4 separate regions of the Homo sapiens genome follow, and regions 1, 2 and 4 are each linked to region 3. The links come from fine-mapping of genetic effects on gene expression. A gene starts in region 3. Each other region holds a variant in brackets. All regions are shown on one strand. Distances are from middle to middle. Region 1 overlaps DAGLA (diacylglycerol lipase alpha). Region 2 has its middle 22 kb from the start of DAGLA. Region 3 holds the start of DAGLA (diacylglycerol lipase alpha). Region 4 overlaps DAGLA (diacylglycerol lipase alpha).

Region 1 (5,143 bases), 62 kb after region 3:
CTGTGAGCAAGGTGGGGGCTGCGCCAGGAGAGAGAATAGGAGCAGGCAAGTGGGTAGACCTTTCCCACTGTGCTCCTTCAGACGGCTGGGCCCTGGCTCCTCCCTCCAGGGTCGGCTTCCTCCCCTGACACAGCTGGTGAGCTGGGCCGTGCAGCAGGTGGAGCAGGTGTGGCCCAGGCCAAAAGCAGGTCGAAGGCTGTGGAGGGACCATGGCTGAGGCTCGAGGTCAGCCTTTCCCAGGCTGAGGGCAGGGCAGGAGCCAGGCCAGGGAACAGAGCCCTGCTGCCAGGCAGGCCAGGGGCCTCCAAACCATGCCAGCTCTGCTGAGCAGGGCAGAGAACAGAGCCAGGAGGCCCTGGCACCGAGGGCCAGGCCACCACCCCACCCTTAACTCCCCTCTGTCCATGTCCCTCTCAGCTGCTGTGAGCAGGAGGAGCCCACATACTTTGCCATCTGGGGCGACAACAAGGCCTTCAATGAGGTGATCATCTCGCCAGCCATGCTGCATGAGCACCTGCCCTATGTGGTCATGGAGGGGCTCAACAAGGTGAGGCAGCTCCCGGCAGGGTACCACCAGGGAATAAGGCACTGTCACCCCATCAGAACCCCGTAAGCACCATCAGATCACTGCCCGATTTTACAGACAAGGGTGCTGGGGCTCAGAGAAGTAGGTAGCTGGGCCAGAAAGCCCCACTCAAATACTTCAACCTCACACCCCTGGCTCTGTCCACATCACCACGTTGCCCCATGGTGGGGAGGAGATAAGGAGACTCCCAGGGGCCTGTCCCTGAGGCAGGCTCAGCTCAGAGGCCCGGAAGGCCACCTGGCCCTTAACAGATGAATGGGCAAGCAGCGACAGCCACAGCCATCCCCTGGCTGCGGAAAGGCTGAAGGCAGGTAGGGCAGGAGCACTCGCCGGGCTGTGGGGCGAGTCGTGACCAGATGGGCAAGTCTCAGGCCTTGGGGAGTGGTGACCTCAGGAGGAGGAGAGTGGGACCCAAGTGACTCCATGAGGCTTTGCTTGGCCTGAGAGGCCTGGGCCCTGGCTCCACATCGGCCCCACGATGGGGCCTGATGTCCCTCCACCACCCCCAGCCTCCTCTGTCCTGTCCTCAGGTGCTGGAGAACTACAACAAGGGGAAGACCGCTCTGCTCTCTGCAGCCAAGGTCATGGTGAGCCCTACCGAGGTGGACCTGACTCCTGAGCTCATCTTCCAGCAGCAGCCACTCCCCACGGGGCCGCCCATGCCCACTGGCCTTGCCCTGGAGCTGCCGACTGCAGACCACCGCAACAGCAGCGTCAGGTGAGCCTTGGCCACTCCCAGCCCCACCCCAGGGTGAGTGTGGTTCAGAGCACATAGACTTGTGTGCACATGCATTTTGTGCATGCACTGGGCTCAGCTCTGCACACGTGCACAGGAGGGGTCAAACTCACCCTCTGTGCTCTAGGGCTCTCTTGCTGTGCTCCAGCTGTCCCACAGCCTGCTGTCCCTGAATCCTACATGAGCCAGGGGAGGCACACAGACCCACAAACCCTGGGCCACAAAAGCACAGATTCACTCTTTTTTTTTTTTTTTTTTTTTGAGACGAAGTCTCGCTCTTTTCCCCCAGGCCGGAGTGCAATGGCGCGACCTTGGCTCACTGCAACCTCCACCTCCCAGGTTCAAGCGATTATCCTGCCTCAGCCTCCCAAGTAGCTGGGATTACAGGCGCCTGCCACCGTGCCCAGCTAATTTTTGTATTTTTAGTAGAGATGGGATTTCACCATGTTGGCCAGGCTGGTCTTGAACTCCTGACCTCAGGTGATCTGCCCGCCTCAGCCTCCCAAAGTGCTGGGATTATAGGGGTGAACCACCATGGCCGGCCTGCACAGATTCACTCTTACACACTTAGACGCAAACAGATGGACACCCATTTACTTACATATTTGTATTGAAGCTTACACACATACATGTGCACACAATTATTAGTTATAAGTACACAGGTCACCCCCTACAGACATGCACATGTACAAGACACACACCAAGACAAAGGTGGAGACACATATACAAGGACACATGTGGACAGGCAG[G/C]TGCTCATGGAAATGCATGAATACACCTGTGCACAGACCCAGACACACAAGCCAGCTGACATACACAGACGTCTGGTCTACACACTCATACACATGAACAGAGGCGTGCACACATGCTCACAGGGGCACGCACATGGGGGCCACAGCGCCCTTGCTATTCACACACTCTTTGAGGGGTGCGAGGCTCTTAAGTGGTAGTCCTTCCAGGGGAGGATTGTCCTGCCTTTCTAGGACCTTCCCACACAGGCCCTGTGTGCTTGGTCACAGATCTGGTCAAGAGGCTGCTTCCTGGCCCTTGGTAGGGACAACTGGACGTCTCTCCCTGCCATTTGTGCATTTCCTGTGGCAGCTGCACAACCCGATGAAGAAGCCAGTGTCCATTTCCGGCTGCGGTGACTGCTGCAAGCCACCCACTCCCTGCCCTGTCACTCATTCCCTGCAGGCTGGTCTGCGGAGCCAGGGGCACTAGGCTCCCCACCCAGCAGAGGGCTGCGGCCCATGGGAGACAGGAGGAGACCCGGATGAGGAAGGAAGTGATGAGATCCCTGGGAGTGGCACCCAGGGTTGCTGGCTCTGAGATTGGGGTGGAACCAGTTGGGCAGCTATGTGCAGGGCTCTCTCCCTTCCCTGTCTCCCTGCTGCCCTCTGTCCCTCCCTCCCTCCCTCCCTTCCTCCTTCCCTCCCTCCCTCCTTCCCTCCCTCTGTCTCTCTCATTCCACTGTGGCCTCATGAGTGACCTGGGGCAGGCTCATGAGTGATCTGGGGCAGCCAGTCTATCAGAGCCTCATTCTCACATTGGTACAATGACAGGGGTTCTGGTGCAGAGAACCCCAGCAGCACTCCTGAAGTCCTAGTGCTGCCAGCAGGGCCTTAGCCCCTCAGGGACCCCGCGGCTCAACCCAGCATCAACTCTTTTGTCTTCTATCTTGGGTTCTTGTGAGTTGTTTTTAAAAAATAATCATTCCTGGCTGGGCGCGGTGGCTCACGCCTGTAATCTCAGCACTTTGGGAGGCCGAGGCAGGCGGATCACCAGGTCAGCAGATTGAGACCATCCTGGCTAACATGGTGAAACCCCATCTCTACTAAAAAATACAAAAAATTAGCCAGGCATGGTGGCGGGCACCTGTAGTCCCAGCTACTCGGGAGGCTGAGGCAGGAGAATGGCGTGAACCCAGGGCGGAGCTTGCAGTGAGCCAAGATCGTGCCACTGCACTCCAGCCTGGGCGACAGAGCGAGACTCTGTCTCAAAAAAAAAAAAAAAAAAAGAAAATAAGCATTCCCTGCTGCACATCATCAACAACTGCTAAATGAACTGTACCCTTTATTCCCTGCAAGTTCCTTTTAGCCAGGGAGCTGGGGTTCAGTCCCCTCTCCCTTCTGAGTCTTATACCCCCTGCTCTCCTCTCCCTCTGCAGGAGCAAGTCCCAGTCTGAGATGAGCCTGGAGGGCTTCTCGGAGGGGCGGCTGCTGTCGCCAGTGGTTGCGGCGGCGGCCCGCCAGGACCCGGTGGAGCTGCTGCTGCTGTCTACCCAGGAGCGGCTGGCGGCGGAGCTGCAGGCCCGGCGGGCACCACTGGCCACCATGGAGAGCCTCTCGGACACTGAGTCCCTGTACAGCTTCGACTCGCGCCGCTCCTCAGGCTTCCGCAGCATCCGGGGCTCCCCCAGCCTCCACGCTGTGCTGGAGCGTGATGAAGGCCACCTCTTCTACATTGACCCTGCCATCCCCGAGGAAAACCCATCCCTGAGCTCGCGCACTGAGCTGCTGGCGGCCGACAGCCTGTCCAAGCACTCACAGGACACGCAGCCCCTGGAGGCGGCCCTGGGCAGTGGCGGCGTCACTCCTGAGCGGCCCCCCAGTGCTGCGGCCAATGACGAGGAGGAAGAGGTTGGCGGTGGGGGTGGCGGGCCGGCCTCCCGCGGGGAGCTGGCGCTGCACAATGGGCGCCTGGGGGACTCGCCCAGTCCTCAGGTGCTGGAATTCGCCGAGTTCATCGACAGCCTCTTCAACCTGGACAGCAAGAGCAGCTCCTTCCAAGACCTCTACTGCATGGTGGTGCCCGAGAGCCCCACCAGTGACTACGCTGAGGGCCCCAAGTCCCCCAGCCAGCAAGAGATCCTGCTCCGTGCCCAGTTCGAGCCCAACCTGGTGCCCAAGCCCCCACGGCTCTTTGCCGGCTCAGCCGACCCCTCCTCGGGCATCTCACTCTCGCCCTCCTTCCCGCTCAGCTCCTCGGGTGAGCTCATGGACCTGACGCCCACGGGCCTCAGTAGCCAGGAATGCCTGGCGGCTGACAAGATCCGGACTTCTACCCCCACTGGCCACGGAGCCAGCCCCGCCAAGCAAGATGAGCTGGTCATCTCAGCACGCTAGCACCCCAGTTGCGTGGCCAGCCGGGCCCAGGCAGGAGCAGGTGGCCCTGTGGGCACCTGGTGCCTGCCCCCTGCCGGGCAGCTTTAAGGACAGACCCCCAGGGGCAGTTTAGCCTCAGGCACAGGCATCGCTGCTGAGCTGGGGGTCCGCATCCCTACCTCAGCTTAGGACCCCCAGAGCCAAGGTGGCTGGGATCTGGCCCCACAGATGGGGAAAGATGGGGAAGGGTGTGGAGTGGGGAGGAGCCTGGGCAGCCTGCTGGGTGGGCCACACTCAGCCTGACTGCCCTCCATGGGGGCATTCTGGCACCCCCTGCTCCAGGACAGGCCATGGGCAAGCTGCCTCCCATCACTGCCTGCTGGCTGCTCTCCCAGGGGCCAGGTGGAGAGCAGTGCCCCCCGACACATGTATTCTCATCTGTGGTCCAGGCCGGCATCGTCCTGGCCACCCCCCAGATCTGGTGCCTGCTGGCCGGCCCCCTGGGGTGCCCCTGCCGAGGTGGCCTGCAGTGCTGTACATGTTTACAGAAGCTGCTGGGCTTGGCTCAGGATGTGTTCTGGGCTTGCAAGCCCCCCGCCCAATCATGTGTTCAGTAGCCGTCCTCTGAGCAGGGCCCAAGGCAGCCAGGGGCCTGGAGGGGCCAGAGGAGGGTGGGGTCAGGGCCGCCCCTTCTCTGCCTTGTGCCTCTCATGCTGCCTC
Region 2 (5,143 bases), 22 kb before region 3:
TTTCTACACAGACACAGTAACAATCTGATCTCTCTTGCTTTTCCCCACACCCTTCTCCCCTGCCCAACTCCACGCTCAGGTGGAAGCTGATTTTCTTTTCTTTCTATTTGAGACAGAGTCTCGCTCTGTTGCCTAGGCTGGAGTGCAGTGGCATGATCTTGGTCAGCTCACTGCAACCTCCGCCTCCCAGGTTCAAGCAATTCTTCCACTCAGCCTCCTGAGTAGCTGGGATTACAGGTGCACACTACCACGCCCGGCTAAGTTTTGTATTTTTGTAGAGATGGGGTTTCGCCATGTTGGCCAGGCTGGTCTTGAACTCCTGACTTCAGGTGATCTGCCCGCCTCGGCCTCCCAAAGTGCTGGAATTACAGGTGTGAGCCACTGCGCCTGGTCTAGAAGCTGATTTTCTAGAGGCATCTTCAAGACCCAGGAACTTCAGGACTGAGTTTCTAATGAAGAGAAGAATAGGAAGTCCTTGGGGACAGTCAGAAATGGAGGTGAAGGTACAGGGGGTGTGGGGTGGTGAGGGTGCAGGGGTGCGGGGTGGTGAGAGTGCAGGGGGTGCGGGGAGGTGAGGGTGCAGGGAGTGCGAGGTGGTGAGGGTGCAGGGGCGCGGGGTGGTGAGGGTGCAGGGAGTGAGGGATGGTGAGAATGCAGGGGGGTGCGGGGTGGTGAGGGTGCAGGGGGTGCAGGGTGGTGAGGGTACAGGGGGTGCAGGGAGGAGAGGGTGCAGGGGTGCAGGGTGGTGAGGCAGCATTCCAGACAGAGGGAACAGCATGGGCAAAGGAGAGGAGGCTGGATGCAAAATGAGAGGGGAGGAGTGAGCTGAACTGATGCTGTGCCCTGCACATAGCTCAAGGGACAAACGTAGATCATGGGGAACGTGGGGCCACATGAGTGTTTCAAGCTGAGAAGTATTGATATGCTGGGAGCATCTCCTGGGGCCACTCTGTGGAGGACAGGTCCAGGCCAGAGGCCTGGGAGCAAGAGATTAGCAATGGGGTCGTGAACCCAGAACACTTATAGGGAAGAGGAAAAAGCGATTCCAAAGACTAAAGGGCAGCAGCGGCCTGCACCTCTGGGCACTTCATCTCAGACGCAAATCACTCCAGGTTGCCGAGAGCTCAGAAATGGATTTCTTGAATTATGCAAAGGTAGAGAAGTCAGACCCAACCCCCGCCCCCCATTACAAATATTTTGTAATGTTCCCTTCACCAAGCTGAAATGAAATTCATAAATAAACTAACCTACCCTCACACATGCTTTAAAAAAAAAATCAATGATATCCTAACTATAATATGAAGGAGAAATAAAAGGAGGGTAATTTCTAATAAAATAATATAAATTTCAGGATGAAAATCTGCAGGCAGCCTGGGCGTGGTGGCTCATGCCTGTAATCCTAGCACTATGGAAGTCTGAGGTGGGCGGATCACCTGAGGTCAGGAGTTCGAGACCAGCCTGGCCAACATGGTGAAACCCTGTCTCTCCTAAAACTACAAAAATTAGCCAGGCGCGGTGGTGGGCGCCTGTAATTCCAGCTACCTGGGAAGCTGAGGCAGGAGAATCGCTGGAACCTGGGAGATGGAGGTTGCAGCGAGCCAAGATTGTGCCACTGCACTCCAGCCTGGGCAACAGAGTGAGACGCCATCTCAAAAAAAAAAAAAAAAAAAAGAAAAAAGAAAAAGAAAGAAAATCTGCAGGCTGACTACAGCCAGAGATGAGGTGGCCCCACACTTGCTCCTAGAGGTGGGGCCACGGAGACCATGGCGGCCACAAGGCAGATGGACACAGGTAGTTGTGATGGTGATTCAGACCCCACAGGCGGTGCTGTTGCCAGTGACATGAAATGGGCAACGAGTCTTGGCCAAATTCCAAGCAAAACAAAGGACAATCTTCTCTTGTATACACAATAGTCATGTTCCTAGAAAATTCTGTGTATGTTGAAAGCATGCAAAAGTTATTTATTTTGTGTTTATATAAAAACAGGTCTCTGTCTCCCATTTTGACAAAGAAAAATGCCCTTGCAGATTTCCCAGACTCCTCTGAGGGGCCGTCTTGGCCTCA[T/C]TGGGTGTCATTGTCTTAGAGCCTTTTCTGTAATTACAGCAGCTGAGACCAGAATGCAGGTGCCCCGTAAAACCAATCTGCATATTCTTCTGGTGGCTGAGAGGCGGGCGGGAGGCTGTGGAACTTAGAGGACAGTTGGGAGAAGGGTCCAGAGAGGTGGGAAGTGAGCAGCCCCCAAGAAATGGCAACAGGCCAAGGCCAGAGGAGATGGCAGGCTGCTGAGACGCTTCCTGGGGTGGGGACAGACAAAAGGTGCTAAACTGTAAATCTGTAATCCCCCCTCTGCTGTTCCCAATTCGTCCATAAAAGTCAGTTACACAGGCTGGGTGCCTTGGCTAATGCCTGTAACCCCACCACTTTGAGAGGCCAACATGGGTGGATCACCTGAGGTCAGGAGTTCGAGACCAGCCTGACCAATATGGTGAAACCCTGTCTCTACTAAAAATACAAAAATTAGCCAAGCATGGTGGTGCACACCTGTAGTCCCAGCACTTGGGAGACTGAGACAGGGGAATTGCTTGAACCTGGGAGACAGAGGTTGCAGTGAGCAGAGATTGCACCACTGCACTACACTGGGTGACAGAGCCAGATTCGGTCTCAAAAAAAAAAAGGTCAGTTACACACTATAGTGCTTGGAGGGGGATCAATAAAAATGATGGCTCATATTCCCTAACTAACTTGCTGATGCTTTACTCACACTAACTCATGTGACCTGCAGCAAGGCCTAAGAGGTAGGGGCCACACTTACCCCCAGTTTATAATGAGAAAACCAAAGCCTAGAGAGATGGAGACCATTGCCCAAGGCCAATCAGCTCATCAGTTGCAGAGCAAGACTTTGAACCCAGGCAGTCTGGCTCCTGTGGCCCCTGTTTGATCACCCCACTAGCAAGGGCCAGACCTGTGCTCTAGTGAAGCATTGCGAAGGGAAATCGCAGCAGTATGGAGGGAGCTGGGGCGGGGTTGAAGAAATCTGGGCTAAGAGGTAACAGGAGATCATAGGCATTCACTGGAGATTCTCAAAAACATTGAGAAGGATGCTAGCCTTCCCTGGTATGAAGGACAGAGACAGCCATTTTCACTGGATCTTACAAGGAAGGGTGACTCCAGGGAGGTGGAAGATCAGAAGCATCCTGTCCCAATGGAAACTCCAAAATGGCCATGTTGGTTTACATCCAGGGCCCATCTGAACTCTGTTTGTTTCTGAACTCTTAAATTTCAACAGCTTCACCTATTTCCATCCCATTTGTTAATAGCTGTATTTTAATGTATTCATTGGCTGAGAAAATACAGCACAAAAGACTACTTTGAATTCAGAAATGCTTTCAGTGAATTTGAATGTTATTAATCACAGTGGCATCCACATTCATTTGAAAAACATTACATCTGTAGAAGCCAAATGCTTTCCAGCGACAGTGCTTGGGGCACTTATGGCCAATGCTGAGTAAAAGGCATAGGTGGAAACTAGGAAGAGGCAAGAAAGAAGTGACTGATGCACCAGCGCCAGAATCCCCCAGGACCCAGCTCAACCCCCTGGGGTGGCTCAGGGTCACTACCACAGTCCTGATCCATGTCACCTACTCCCTGCTGGTATATGTGCTGAGAAAAGGCTTTGATTGGGCCATCCTAGTGCCACTCATTATGGAGCAACTCCATGGGGCAGAGCTTAGGCCAGCCCCCACCAAGAGGCTAGCTGACCTCCTGTCCAGCCCAAATGGAGGCGCTGGACAATTGCAGGTCAGTCCAGGGCAATCACCTGTTCCCAGTGGGGCCGTTGCGAGGGATGGATGAAGTGTCAGAGGCGTTTGAACCAGAGCAACTCCATCTTGAATAGGGGCTGGGTAAAATAAGGCTGAGATCTACTGGGCTGCATTCCCAGATGGTTAGGCATTCTAAGTCATAGGATGAGATAGGTTGACACAAGATACAGGTCATAAAGACCTTGCTGATAACACGGTCTGCAGTAAAGAAGCCGGCTAAAACCCACTAAAACCAAGATGGCAATGAGGCTGACCTCTGGTGGCCCTCACTGGTACACAGTTTACAAATGCCATGGCAATGTCAGGAAGTTACCCTATATGGTCTAAAAAGGGGAGGCATGAATAATCCACCCCTTATTTAGCATATCCTCAAGAAATAACCAGTTGGGCATGGTGGCTCACTCCTCTAATCCCAGCACTTCGGGAGGCTGAGGTGGATGGATCACCTGAGGTCAGAAGTTCGAGACCAGCCTGGCCAACATGGTGAAACCCTGTCTCTCCTAAAAATACAAAAAATTAGCCTTGTGTGGTGGCGGGTGCCTGTTATCCCAGCTACTCGGGAGGCTGAGGCAGGAGAATCTCCTGCACCTGGGAGGCAGAGGTTACAGTGAGTGAGATCACAGCATTGCACTCCAGCCTGGGCAACAAGAGCGGAACTCCATCTCAAAAAAAATAAAGAGGCCGGGCATGGCGGCTCACGCCTGTAATCCCAGCACTTTGGGAGGCTGAGGTGGGAGGATCACGAGCTCAGGAGATAGAGACCATCCTGGCTAACACGGTGAAACCCCATGTCTACTAAAAAAATAAAAAACATCAGCCGGGCATGGTGGCGGGTGCCTGTAGTCCCAGCTACTCGGGAGGCTGAGGCAGGAGAATGGCGTGAACCCAGGAGGCGGAGCTTGCAGTGAACCGAGATCTCGCCACTGCACTCCAGCCTGAGCAACAGAGCAAGACTCTGTCTCAAAAAAAAAGAAAAAAAAAAAGAAAAAGAACCATAAAAATGATTAACCGGCAGCCCTTTTATTCTGTTATTTTTCTAATAAACTTGCCTTCACTTTACTCTATGGATTCGCCTCAAATTTTTTCTTGCACAAAATCCAAGAACCCTGCCTTGGGGTCTGGACCGGGGCCCCTTTCCGGTAACAAAAGGAGCAGGTTGGGGCTACAGTCTTCAAAAGGTGGCTGGAAAATTGGCAAAATTGAAAGGAATGACAATACCAACTGTTGGCAAGGATGTACGCAACTGAAACCCTCACACATGGTTGGGGAGTGTGTTAGGCCGTTATTGCATTGCTGTGAAGAAATACCTGATGCTGCATAGG
Region 3 (5,143 bases):
TTTTTTTTTTTTGAGACGGAGTCTCACTCTGTTGCCCAGGCTGGAGTGCAGTAGCGGGATCTCGGCTCACTGCAACCTCCACCTCCCGGGTTCAAGCAACTCTCCTGCCTCAGCCTCCCGAATAGCTGGGATTACAGGTGCCCATCACCATGCCCAGCTGATTTTTGTATTTTTAGTAGAGATGGGGTTTCACCATGTTGGTCAGGCTGGTCTTGAACTCCTGACCTCAGGTGATCCACCCGCCTCAGCCTCCCAAAGTGCTGGGATTACAGGTGTGAGCCACCGCACCCGGTCACCTAACATTTATAATAGTGGTGTTTCTCAGCCTTTCATGTGCATTCAAATCACCTGGGAATCTTGTTGCCAACCTGAGATTCTTGGGCCTGAGATTATGCATTCCCGTTAAGCTTCTGGGTGGTGCCAATGTCTCACTCTGAGTAGCAAGAGTTCAAAGGATTTGGTGATGGTAAAAGTAACCCTTTAATTCAGTTAAATGACCAGATGGGATCAATCACCTTGAAGATCTTGAAATAATAGTAGCCTCATGACATCAAGTGTGAAGGTGACTGTTGGTACTTGTCTGGTGAAGACAACTTTGGAGGAATGGGAAGAAGGACTGGCGTGTGTCGGGACACATGTGTGCACATGGACACATGTGAGTTTGTGTACATGGGACAGCTAAGGGATGGATCCGTAGTAGACAGCCTTTTTTTTTTTTTTTTTTTGAGATGGAGTCTGGCTCTCTTGCCCAGGCTAGAGTGCAATGGCACGATCTCGGCTCACTGCAACCTCTGCCTCCCACGTTCAAGTGATTCTTCCGCCTCAGCCTCCCGAGTAGCTGGGATTACAGGCACCTGCCATCATGCCAGGCTAATTTTTGTACTTTGGTAGAGATAGGGTTTCACCATGTTGGCCAGACTGGTCTCGAACTCCTGACCTCAGGTGATCCACCTGCCTCTGCCTCCCAAAGTGCTGGGATTACAGGCATGAGCCACCGCCCCTGGCCGACAGTCTTTGGACTGGCTGTTCAGGTCATGATTCTCCTCCTCTGGGAGTGTCTCTCAACGGGGAAAAGTGGACTGACATGTTTGTATCACAAAGCACTTTCTGCCCTGGCCATAGCTGATTGACCGTGGCCTGATCTGGACTAATAAGATTCTTTTTTTCTGGGAATCGGGAACTTTGAACCAAGAGACATCCAATCTGGCAGTTTTGATTCTGATTAATGGCAATGATCTAGAAAGAAGATCCCTAAACTGATACTGCTACAGTTGTCCCTTAAAGCCTCCCCTGATCTCTGCCCTTCCTGAGCCTTGAGGAATTCAACTCCTCCTTGAATCCCCTGAGGTGCCCCACTGGGTATATGCGCCCACTCCTCATTTTCCTTGTTACCTACGTGAGTTTGCTTTCTAAATAATCACAGGTAACACAGAACTCCTTCCAGAAGTGGCTCCATCTGCTTCAATAAAAGGCAGTCCTGGCCTCACAGTCTCATTTCCAACCCAAATGTCCACGTAATTTTCAGACCGAGGCTTCTGCTCAAGCCGGGCACCCCACTACCCACACCTCCTTGTTCACCTATGGCTCCCACTTCTACTGAACTGCGCGATCACTGTGATTTTGGGGGTGGCAACAGGGCCTAGGAAACATTTTAGAGGCACTTCTCTTGCCTGAAAGAAAACGTTCTTCCCCTTTTTGTCTCTGATGAATCTTTACTGGATCTTTGGGACCCAGCTGAGTCATCCCGACCTGCAGACTGGACTCCCATCCCCAGGCTTAAATTCCTTTCCAAGGGCTCTGTCTGTCCTCTCGGCTTAGCTTCTGTGTTAAAACCCCCTCCATCTGCGTCTCCTCCCCAGCAGAATGAGCTCCTTGAAGTCAGGGCCCGCCTTCTGCTCCTCTCTGTGCTCCACTCCCCCAGTTCAGCACAGTGCTCCCAGGGAGGTGTAAGCGACTTACGGTGAATGAAAGGGCGTGAAGGGGAACAGGAGGGGCGGTTTTCTTCATTTACCAGAAATTCAAAATTGACCAAGTAAACCCCTTTGGAGACCAGGCACGATGCTGGGCACTGGGAACGGGGGTAGGGGTGGGGGGTGGGGGGGTGGTAGGGAGGAGGGGGTACCCAGGGTACCCACGGGCTCTGTCGCCCGTGGGGAAGGATGGGCATTTACCCTTCCCATTCATCAGGATGGGAGGGCCACGGACTCCCCCCACGGCAGTGCCGGGTAGACCCCTGCACCACACCGTGCCAAGGCCCTTTCTCACAGTCACGCCAGGAACTCTAGCCATGCTCTGACTTCTCAAGCAGAGTTCAGTCACCCCGAGGAGGTGGGACCCGTCTCTCTCCTCCCCACAAATGAACCAGTTCTCCAGTGATCCTACTTCCTTTTTTCCCTCTCCCACGCTAAAACTGGTCACGAGGGACCTAAAGGAGGGGCAGGCACCCAGGCGGCTCCCTTCCCCGCACGCATCGCGGCCAGTCCAGCCCCTCCCGGCCGCCCACGGGACCCCAGCCGAGCCTGAGCCAGGCGCCCACCGCCCCCACGCGCAGGGCCGGCGCCCGCGGAAGACTCGGCTCTCCCTGGCCTCGACGCCGCTCCCCTCCCTGGCGCCAGGGGGCGCTGCCTCCCCACGACCGTCGCCATGGTCACCGCTGGCGGCGGAGAGGGGTTTACGTAAAGGACGCAGCGTCCCCCGGGGGGCGGAGGCGGCCTTCGCGCCGGCGCCGGCGCCCTGCGGAAGCGGCGTTAGTGAATCGGGGCCTTGGGGAGCCCAGGATGGAGGTGGCGGTCGCGGCGGCGGGCCGAGCCCTGCGGCGGGCGGGAGGTAAGGGGGGCCTCCGGCGCGGCGGGCCGGTCCTGGGCGCGGGCGCGGTGCGAGCGGCGCGGCGGGCTGGGCAGTGTCCAGGGCGCGCGGTGGCCGGCCCGACGGGTCGGCGGGCGGAGTTGCAGCTGCCACGCGCGCCCGTGGCAGGTGTGAGGTCTGTGGAGCCCCTGGCACCAGCGTGGGGATGGTGACACGCGTGGCACGGGCGTGGGCAACGTGGGTCCGGCACAGGCGGCGTGGTTTTCCTGGAACGGGTCTCAGAAGACTCGCCTCCACCTTGGTGCGGTGGTGGCCACGCAGGTGTGAGGTGGTGCAGCTGTCTGCACAGGTAGGTGATGGGCACGGCCTTCGGACTGGTTATGGGATAGGTGGCCAGCTCGTGCCGGCATGGTGGTGCCGCTAGCATGGGTGTGAGGAAGTGCTGCCATTGCTTGGGTGTTGGGATGGTTCTGGCCTTGGGCTTGACATGATCTGGGGTGATAGCACTGGGGGCTTGAAGAATTGGTGTTCTCAGCATGGCTAGAGTTCCTGGCATGACTGTGAGAAAGGGCCTTGGCACGGTGTGGTGCGGGGGGCTACCCGGCACTGCCGCGGGGGGAGTCCGTGGCCCTCCCATCCTGATGAATGGGAAGGGTAAATGCCCATCCTTCCTCACGGGCGATGAAGGGGACACTGCCTCTGTCATGGGGGTCCAGTTTTAATGCCTGTTGGGTACACTGGACTGAGGAGGGCAGAAGGCTGGGAGAAGGTTGGTGTCCTTTATAATGGGCATAAACAAGAGATGCCAGGAGAAGCTTCTACCACAAGGGCCCTGATGGTAACCCAGATAGAGACCTTCCAGGCACTACCGTTGTCCTGGGCTAAGGTAGAGAGAACCATTCATCTAGCTTTTCATCTAGCTTTGGGAATGAAGGGAGGGGTGGATGATTTTCAGTGGTGATCGGTGTCCCAGAATATGTCCTGAGAAGCAAGCAGGACCAAGAGGTAACCCGGGTCAGCGAGTGAGGGAGTGGTATGGCGCACCATCTATCTGTAGTCACGGGGTCCTGCCTTCTCCCTGGGTTGATGGGTTCACTCCAGGGTATCTGGGAGTTGCCTCTCTTCTTTGATGCTGGGGAGCCTTTGGGTCCAGAGGATTGGATCGATTGGGGTATGCTTGAAAGATGATTCTGCAGCCACTGGGAATCTGCTGGGGCCACCGGGACTCCCACCCCCAGGCTTAAATTCCTTTCCAAGGGCTCTGTCTGTCCTCTCTGCTTAGCTCCTATGTTAAAACCCCTCCATCTGCGCTGAGATTGTGTTTGCTCTCACCAGTCCTTTGGGAAGCTTTGGGTGAAGGTCTCACTCAGCATCACCTAGTGCCTTACTTTACAGAGAAGCAATTTGCAGCTCCTCCTAGAGAAGTCTTACAGTGTAGGGGAAATCTTCAGTTCTTTGTGGATCTCTTGGGGGAGTGGGATCAGTGGTAGAAGAATCACAGGGTTGAGCTTGTGCTGGGGAAGGCACTTATGAGTCCAAAAAGATGATGTTGAGGGTAGGGTGGCAGGTGGTCGCCAAATTGCCAAGGTGGGTGCTTGGAGATGCTGATGAGTTCCCTATAACCGGAGCACTGTCCGATGCCTTTGGAGCCATATCACTTTAATTCCAGTGTTGGCTGTGTGACCTTCAGCAGGTGACTTCACCAATCAAGGCATGTCACATGGTGGTCTGGTAGTAAAGAATGAAAGGAAATGGTGCACGTGGAAACACTTTGCAAACAGCGAAAGACTGTACAAAGGTCAGAGAGTCTCATCAAGTAAAGAGACCAGGGCTGGAGGCAGGAGCCATAGGAAATGGTGGCACGGGATGTGATTGGGAGGAAGGGAGCCGGAAGGTTGAGGGCCTGTCATAGGGAATTAGAGGCCCTGAGCGCACATGCTCCCGGTGGGGGCAAGTGGGATCTGTTGACACTGTGAGTCAGCTGCTGAGCTGGAACCAGGCCCCCGGTCTCCAGAGGACAGTCCTGAGCATGGCCCCGGCAGCTGTGAAGTCCTGCAGGAGTGGCCCAAGCAGGAGGAAGCACTTTGCTTGGGCAGCAGACGTGCCTCATTGCCAGGGTAGGTCTGGGAGGTGTCTGTGGCTGACAGATCTAGGGTACCTGTGTGGGAGGAAGACTTGGGAAGTGTGTGTGTTTTCTCTGGAGAATTTCCTTTGGCTCTGGGTTCTGAGAACGGGGGTGGGGAGCAGTCACATCAGCGTCTTTTGGGCTGTGGCCTGAAGGAAATGAAGTGGGTCAGAGCATCCACAGATCGATGTGGCTCAGGTCTGGATGGTTCTG
Region 4 (5,143 bases), 49 kb after region 3:
AAGAAAAGTAGCGTTTCACCAGCAGCAAATTAATCAAGAAGGCCTGGCAAAGCCGATAGGCGTTTAGCACGGTCCTAGATGGGGACACATAGCCTTCAGCACCTGGGAGCTCAGAGGAGTGACCAGAGGGCCGGACTTAATGCCAGGGCACTGCAGAAGGAAGACAGGGCCAGCTGGGGGCGGCCCCCAAGGGGAGGGAAGGGAGGCAGGCCCCGGGATCATCCAGGGGTGCCCCGCAGCGGGCAGGGACCTTAGAGATCATCTAGTCCCACCCCTCATTTTACAGATCAGGCAGCTGAGGCCCAGAGAGGTGGAGTGACTTGCTCAGCGTCCCACAGCTAGTTAGTAGCAGAGCCAGTGAGGTCAGGAGACCACTCCTCCCTGAGGCAGACAGCAAAGTGCCTTCCACGGAAGCCACCGGGAAGCCTCGAGTGGCTCCTGCCCACCAGCGTCCCCTGGTGAGCCGTAGAGTGAGTAATCAAGTGTAAGAAAGCCCCCGAGGTTCCCTGGTGGGCGGGGAGCACCCCCTTGGGTCTCTCTGGGGCGGTCTGAGGGGTCTGGGCTGCAAGGCAGGCCATGCAGAGGGCAGAGAGCCGGCCCCTGGCGGATGGAGGCTGGGGCTGCTGTGTGGAGGGCACGCCTGCCCCTCTGGGTGCACGGGCAGAGCTGGGGCTGTTGTCAGAGTCTGGGGAAAAGATAGCACATCACAGCAGAGCCCCACGGCAAAGGTCCTGTTAGACACTGATGGCCTCAGGGGGCAGGTCTGGTCCCAAGCATGTTTTGATCAGCGTGTGTTGTGTTGCTTACACATTTTAATTGGATGCCAGCATTTAAAAATCAGGGGTATTTCCATAAACTTCTGTATTTCTGAATCTGGTGAAGTGGGCCCTGGAGGGCCTCCGGTCAGCTGGAGCCGAGCAGTATCTGGCTCCGTTTGGCTCCATTCGGCATTTGAATTTGCAGCCCTTGATTTAGTCACTTACAAGTGCCAAACACTCAGGGGCGAGACCCAGTGAGACAGACTTCATTGCCATGTGGTTGTTCCCACCTCAGCGTCTCCTAACAGGTTAGGGAAGAGGCTCTGGGCTGCAGCCTGGGGCCAGGAAGGGAAGACTAAGAGGGCACCAGCCAGCAGGGCTCGCCTCCTGCCCTGAGGCCCAGACATGCACTGTCTTCAGGCCAAGGGCCTGGAGAGAAGCCATGGGGGACCACTGGGCCAGAGAGTACACCCCCTTCTAGGGCACATTGTGGGGGTCACTGAGCCAGCAGCCTGTGGGTAGCTGGGGGAGGGGCCCTGAGACCTGGCAGGCTCCACAGAGGCCTTACGAGGGACTTCCAAGGTCCCAGCTGGTGGGTCAGAGGCAGCCAGGAGCTTAGTTTGGTTTCTGTGCTGGAGAGAATGGCTAGAGGAGAAATGAGCCAGAGCCACCCGGCCTTGATTCTAGCGTCTGGGAAAGCAAAAAGGAGTGGCTCAAGTTGGCGCCTGCTCTTGGTAGACAGTGGGCACCATGCGAATTCCAAGGAGAGGAGAGGGCTGGGTGGCTACTGCCAGGTCTAGGAGCCCTGGGCAGGGCCCTCAGGGTCACAGGGCCACATGGGGTCAGGCTCAGTGGGCGCTGTGGAGGTGCTGGGGAGAACCTGTCCAGGGGACCCCGAGCAGACACCTGCTTCTGCAGCCTCCCAGCCCTGGGGGATTTACTCCTGGCCTCTCGTCCTCTCTCCTGCTCCCCTGCCACTGCCTCCTGCCTTCCTGGACCTCGTAGGATGCCTACTCAGAAATCGCCTACCTCTTTGCGGAGTTCTTCCGGGACCTTGACATTGTGCCATCCGACATCATTGCTGGCCTGGTGCTGCTCCGGCAGCGGCAGCGGGCCAAGCGCAACGCCGTGCTGGACGAGGTGAGCACCACCAGCCCCTTCTCCAGGTCACCTCTCCACACCACCCTTCTTTCAGGCCCCTTCCCTGTGGCCCCTGCAGCGGAGGGCTCGGCTCCCACGCAGCTCCCCAGTGACCACGCACTCTCTTGGACCCTGGAGGTCACCTTTACCTCTGGCTCCCCCTGCCTTCCTGAGCTTGTCCTTCGGCCAGGCTTTCCGTGACTACTACTCTAGGGACTTTCTGGGTCGTGCATGGCTGCCTCTGGGGCTGGCCCTCAAAGGACTTCTAACCACAGGCTTAGTGGACGTGGTGAGCTCCCGAGTCGGTCTTCTGCGTGGCCGCTCCGCCCACCCCACATCCCCACCAGCACACCAACCCCAGTTAGGGTTTCTCAGTGTCTCATACAAAATACCTTTCGCCTGCTGTGGGCCAGGAATGTCCTCAGGGGCTTGATGTTTTGGGTAGAAGGGGAGCATCTGGAAATATGGGGAAACCTCAGATTTTGGAAAAGTGGCTGAATCTTGGAAGAACTAGAAGCTGCATGCTCGTTTGGGCTTCTCGGCCTTTGGGAAGCAGGCGGACGCCAGGGCCTGGGCCCCCTTTCCCAGCCATGCAGCCGGGCCTGGGCCAGTGATTGTCCTTCTTCACCTGCCGGTCTTACAGGCAAACAATGACATCTTGGCCTTCCTGTCTGGGATGCCGGTGACCAGAAACACCAAGTACCTCGACCTCAAGAATTCAGTGAGTCAGACATCAACTCTCACCCCACCCCGTCCCCATCCCTCCCACTCTGCCACAATGACCTAAGCAAACTCCTCCCAGCTGCCCTTGCAGTGCCAGCCACATTGCCCCTGCCCGGTCTCCCCCCGGCTCTCCAGAGAGCCTCTCTGCTCAGATCATGCCCCTCACGAGAACCACCCACTTCACACCGGTTCGACAGACAAATCCCCTGAATTCCTTTACCAAGTTCAGAAGTGTCTGGTCCTGGCCTCTTGAGATGACAGAGCACTT[T/C]ACCAGGGTGAGCTGCTAGCATTTTTGCTGCTGCTGCTGCTGTTAATGAAACGCAATGGGCGTAGTACTTGGTTTCCAAGCTTTTTTAGTAGTGGAACCTTTTCTCAATCGCCTTTCGTAGAAATCCAGTGTGTAATAGGGAAAGGTGGTGCCAGTAACATGGTGGGAGAACCCCAGCCCAGGGCCCAGCACACAGCCCAGGGCCCAGTACAGCCCAGGGCCCAGTACAGCCCAGGCTGAAACCACAGCTGGCAGCCGGGAGAAACAGGCCCTGCCTCAGGAAGCAAATGGCTGGAGCGTGCATCTGCTCTGATGCCTGTCGCTGCGACCTCCAGCAGGCCCCTCATCCCCTCTGAGCTGGATCCTGAATCTGTGAAATGACACTAGGCACACCTTCTACCAGAGCTGTGCTGAGAGGACACGAGCCATTCCCATCACAGTGCCAGGAAGCCTCGGTGCCAGCCAGGATGCTGATGGAAAGGATTCCGTCTCTTAGAAATCTCAGTCCTTTAGGCCACGTGTGCTGCCTTGTGCCTGCAATCCCAGCACTTTGGGAGGCCGAGGTGGGAGGATTGCTTGAGGCCAGGAGTTTGAGACCAGCCTGGGCAACATAGTGAGACCCTGTCTCTACAAAAAAAAAAAAAATTAGCCAAGCATGGTGGCACATGCCTGTGACCCCAGCTACTTGGGAGGCTGAGGTAGGAGGATTGCTTGAGCCCAGGAGATCAGGGCTGCAGTGAGCTATGATTGCCACTGCACTCCAGCTGCACTGTCCCTTAAAAAGAAGAAAAAAAAAAAACCAACACTCAGTCCTCTAGAAAAGCCTCAGTCCTCCCTGCCTGTCCCTACTCCCCACTAAAGCAGGCATTTGTATCCTCTCTAAAAATAGCCACATCCATAGTAAGTGCCCCAAACCAGCCCATTTCTGCTTGCCAGGCTCTGCCCTGGCTGTTCTCACCACCTTCTCCCTCCCACTCCTCACAGGGAGCGGGGAGGGCAGGCAGCTGTGACTCCCATCAAGTGACTCCCATCGAGGTGCCAGGGTCACACCTGCCACCTGGCAGAGGCTGCCAGGGCCCACCCCGCCCCCAGGGCTGCAGGGAGCTTCTGACAGGGAGAGGATAATTACCTCTCCACTCTCGTTCCTGAAGAGCAGCTGAGCTGGCCAGGGATGTTTCCACCCCTCCGGGCCCTGATCAAGGTGCCACCTATTTCACTTCACAAGGTGACTAACCACCCTCCTTAACTTTTACAAGGTGACTAATTCCCTCTCCCGGTGCCTGGGGCACTCGGGAAAGACTGGAAGCTGGCAGACACTTTGCTGGGGCACCCCTGCCTCTTCCTCCCTCCACCCCAGCAGCCAATAACCTCCTCAGCATCAACAGTGGCTGCTGGGCCTCAGACACACTGGCTTTCAAACTGGTGCCTTTCTCCCAAGAGATCCCAGTCTCCCACCAACGCAGCCCCTGCCCGGAGCCCTGGGAGCCTGCAGCTGGCTGAGTCAAGTTGAAGGCTCCCAATATTTGCAGTCAAAGAACCCAAGGGCCAGAGATTTGGTGATTGGTCTCCTGGCCTAGCGTGGCTGCCCTGTTGCCCAAGGCCCACACACGCCGCCCAGCTGGAGGGCTGGGGCCTCTCAGGGCTACATTTTCCCAGCATCAAGGGCCCTTCTCAGGGCTGATTGCCGAGGTGGGGGGATTACTACTCACATCCCTCAACTCTTCCCTTCTCTGGAAAACAGGCAAGGAAATGGACCAAGTGATTTTCTGTCCCCAAATCATTAATTCTGAGACTGGAGCAACAGGACAGGTCTCTGAGGATTCGTGTCCTGGTTGCATGGAGATAATTAGGGAAATGCAATTATCACCTGGAGGAGTGTCCTTCCTCCAAGGCCTGGGCCCCACACCTCAACAGGGGACCAGCAACCCCTCCCTGCCAGGGGTTGGGTCCGCAGGCTCCCACCCTGGGGAACTGCTGGGCCCTGAGGCTGTAGGCAGGAAGGGCAGGAGGTGACCGCCCTCTGCCTCCTCTCTTCTAGCAAGAGATGCTCCGCTACAAAGAGGTCTGCTACTACATGCTCTTTGCCCTGGCTGCCTACGGGTGGCCCATGTACCTGATGCGGAAGCCCGCCTGCGGCCTCTGCCAACTGGCTCGGTCCTGCTCGTGAGTACCCCTGTCCCATCCCCCAGCGATTGCACCTCTCCTCCCGGGTGGTGTGTGAGGAAGGGCTACCGGGCTGCGCCTACTGCTTTGC

Evidence for each region. PIP is the estimated chance that this variant, and not a neighbour inherited with it, causes the effect. A credible set is the group of variants that fine-mapping cannot tell apart.
Region 1: its variant is the best candidate, but not a certain one, in a credible set for the expression of DAGLA in blood mononuclear cells (TOPMed, PIP 0.70).
Region 2: its variant is the best candidate, but not a certain one, in a credible set for the expression of DAGLA in whole blood (INTERVAL, PIP 0.67).
Region 4: its variant is the best candidate, but not a certain one, in a credible set for the expression of DAGLA in whole blood (INTERVAL, PIP 0.79).

Annotation. Positions count from the first base shown.
Region 1 is chr11:61,740,046-61,745,188 of GRCh38, forward strand. It overlaps DAGLA (diacylglycerol lipase alpha), which reads left to right. Exons shown (of 20, transcript NM_006133.3): 18 at 418-547; 19 at 1,117-1,304; 20 at 3,487-5,143. The coding sequence ends at 4,444. Among named protein-coding and RNA genes, the nearest start is that of MYRF, 10 kb to the right of the region's middle. RefSeq lists an enhancer at 390-963. The variant G/C (reference allele first, on the strand shown) is at 2,072.
Region 2 is chr11:61,655,928-61,661,070 of GRCh38, forward strand. No RefSeq gene overlaps it. Among named protein-coding and RNA genes, the nearest start is that of DAGLA, 22 kb to the right of the region's middle. The variant T/C (reference allele first, on the strand shown) is at 2,065.
Region 3 is chr11:61,677,679-61,682,821 of GRCh38, forward strand. DAGLA (diacylglycerol lipase alpha) reads left to right here and starts at 2,713. Exons shown (of 20, transcript NM_006133.3): 1 at 2,713-2,826. RefSeq lists an enhancer at 4,910-5,143.
Region 4 is chr11:61,726,390-61,731,532 of GRCh38, forward strand. DAGLA (diacylglycerol lipase alpha) reads left to right here. Exons shown (of 20, transcript NM_006133.3): 7 at 1,764-1,898; 8 at 2,542-2,619; 9 at 4,928-5,052. Among named protein-coding and RNA genes, the nearest start is that of MYRF, 24 kb to the right of the region's middle. The variant T/C (reference allele first, on the strand shown) is at 2,890.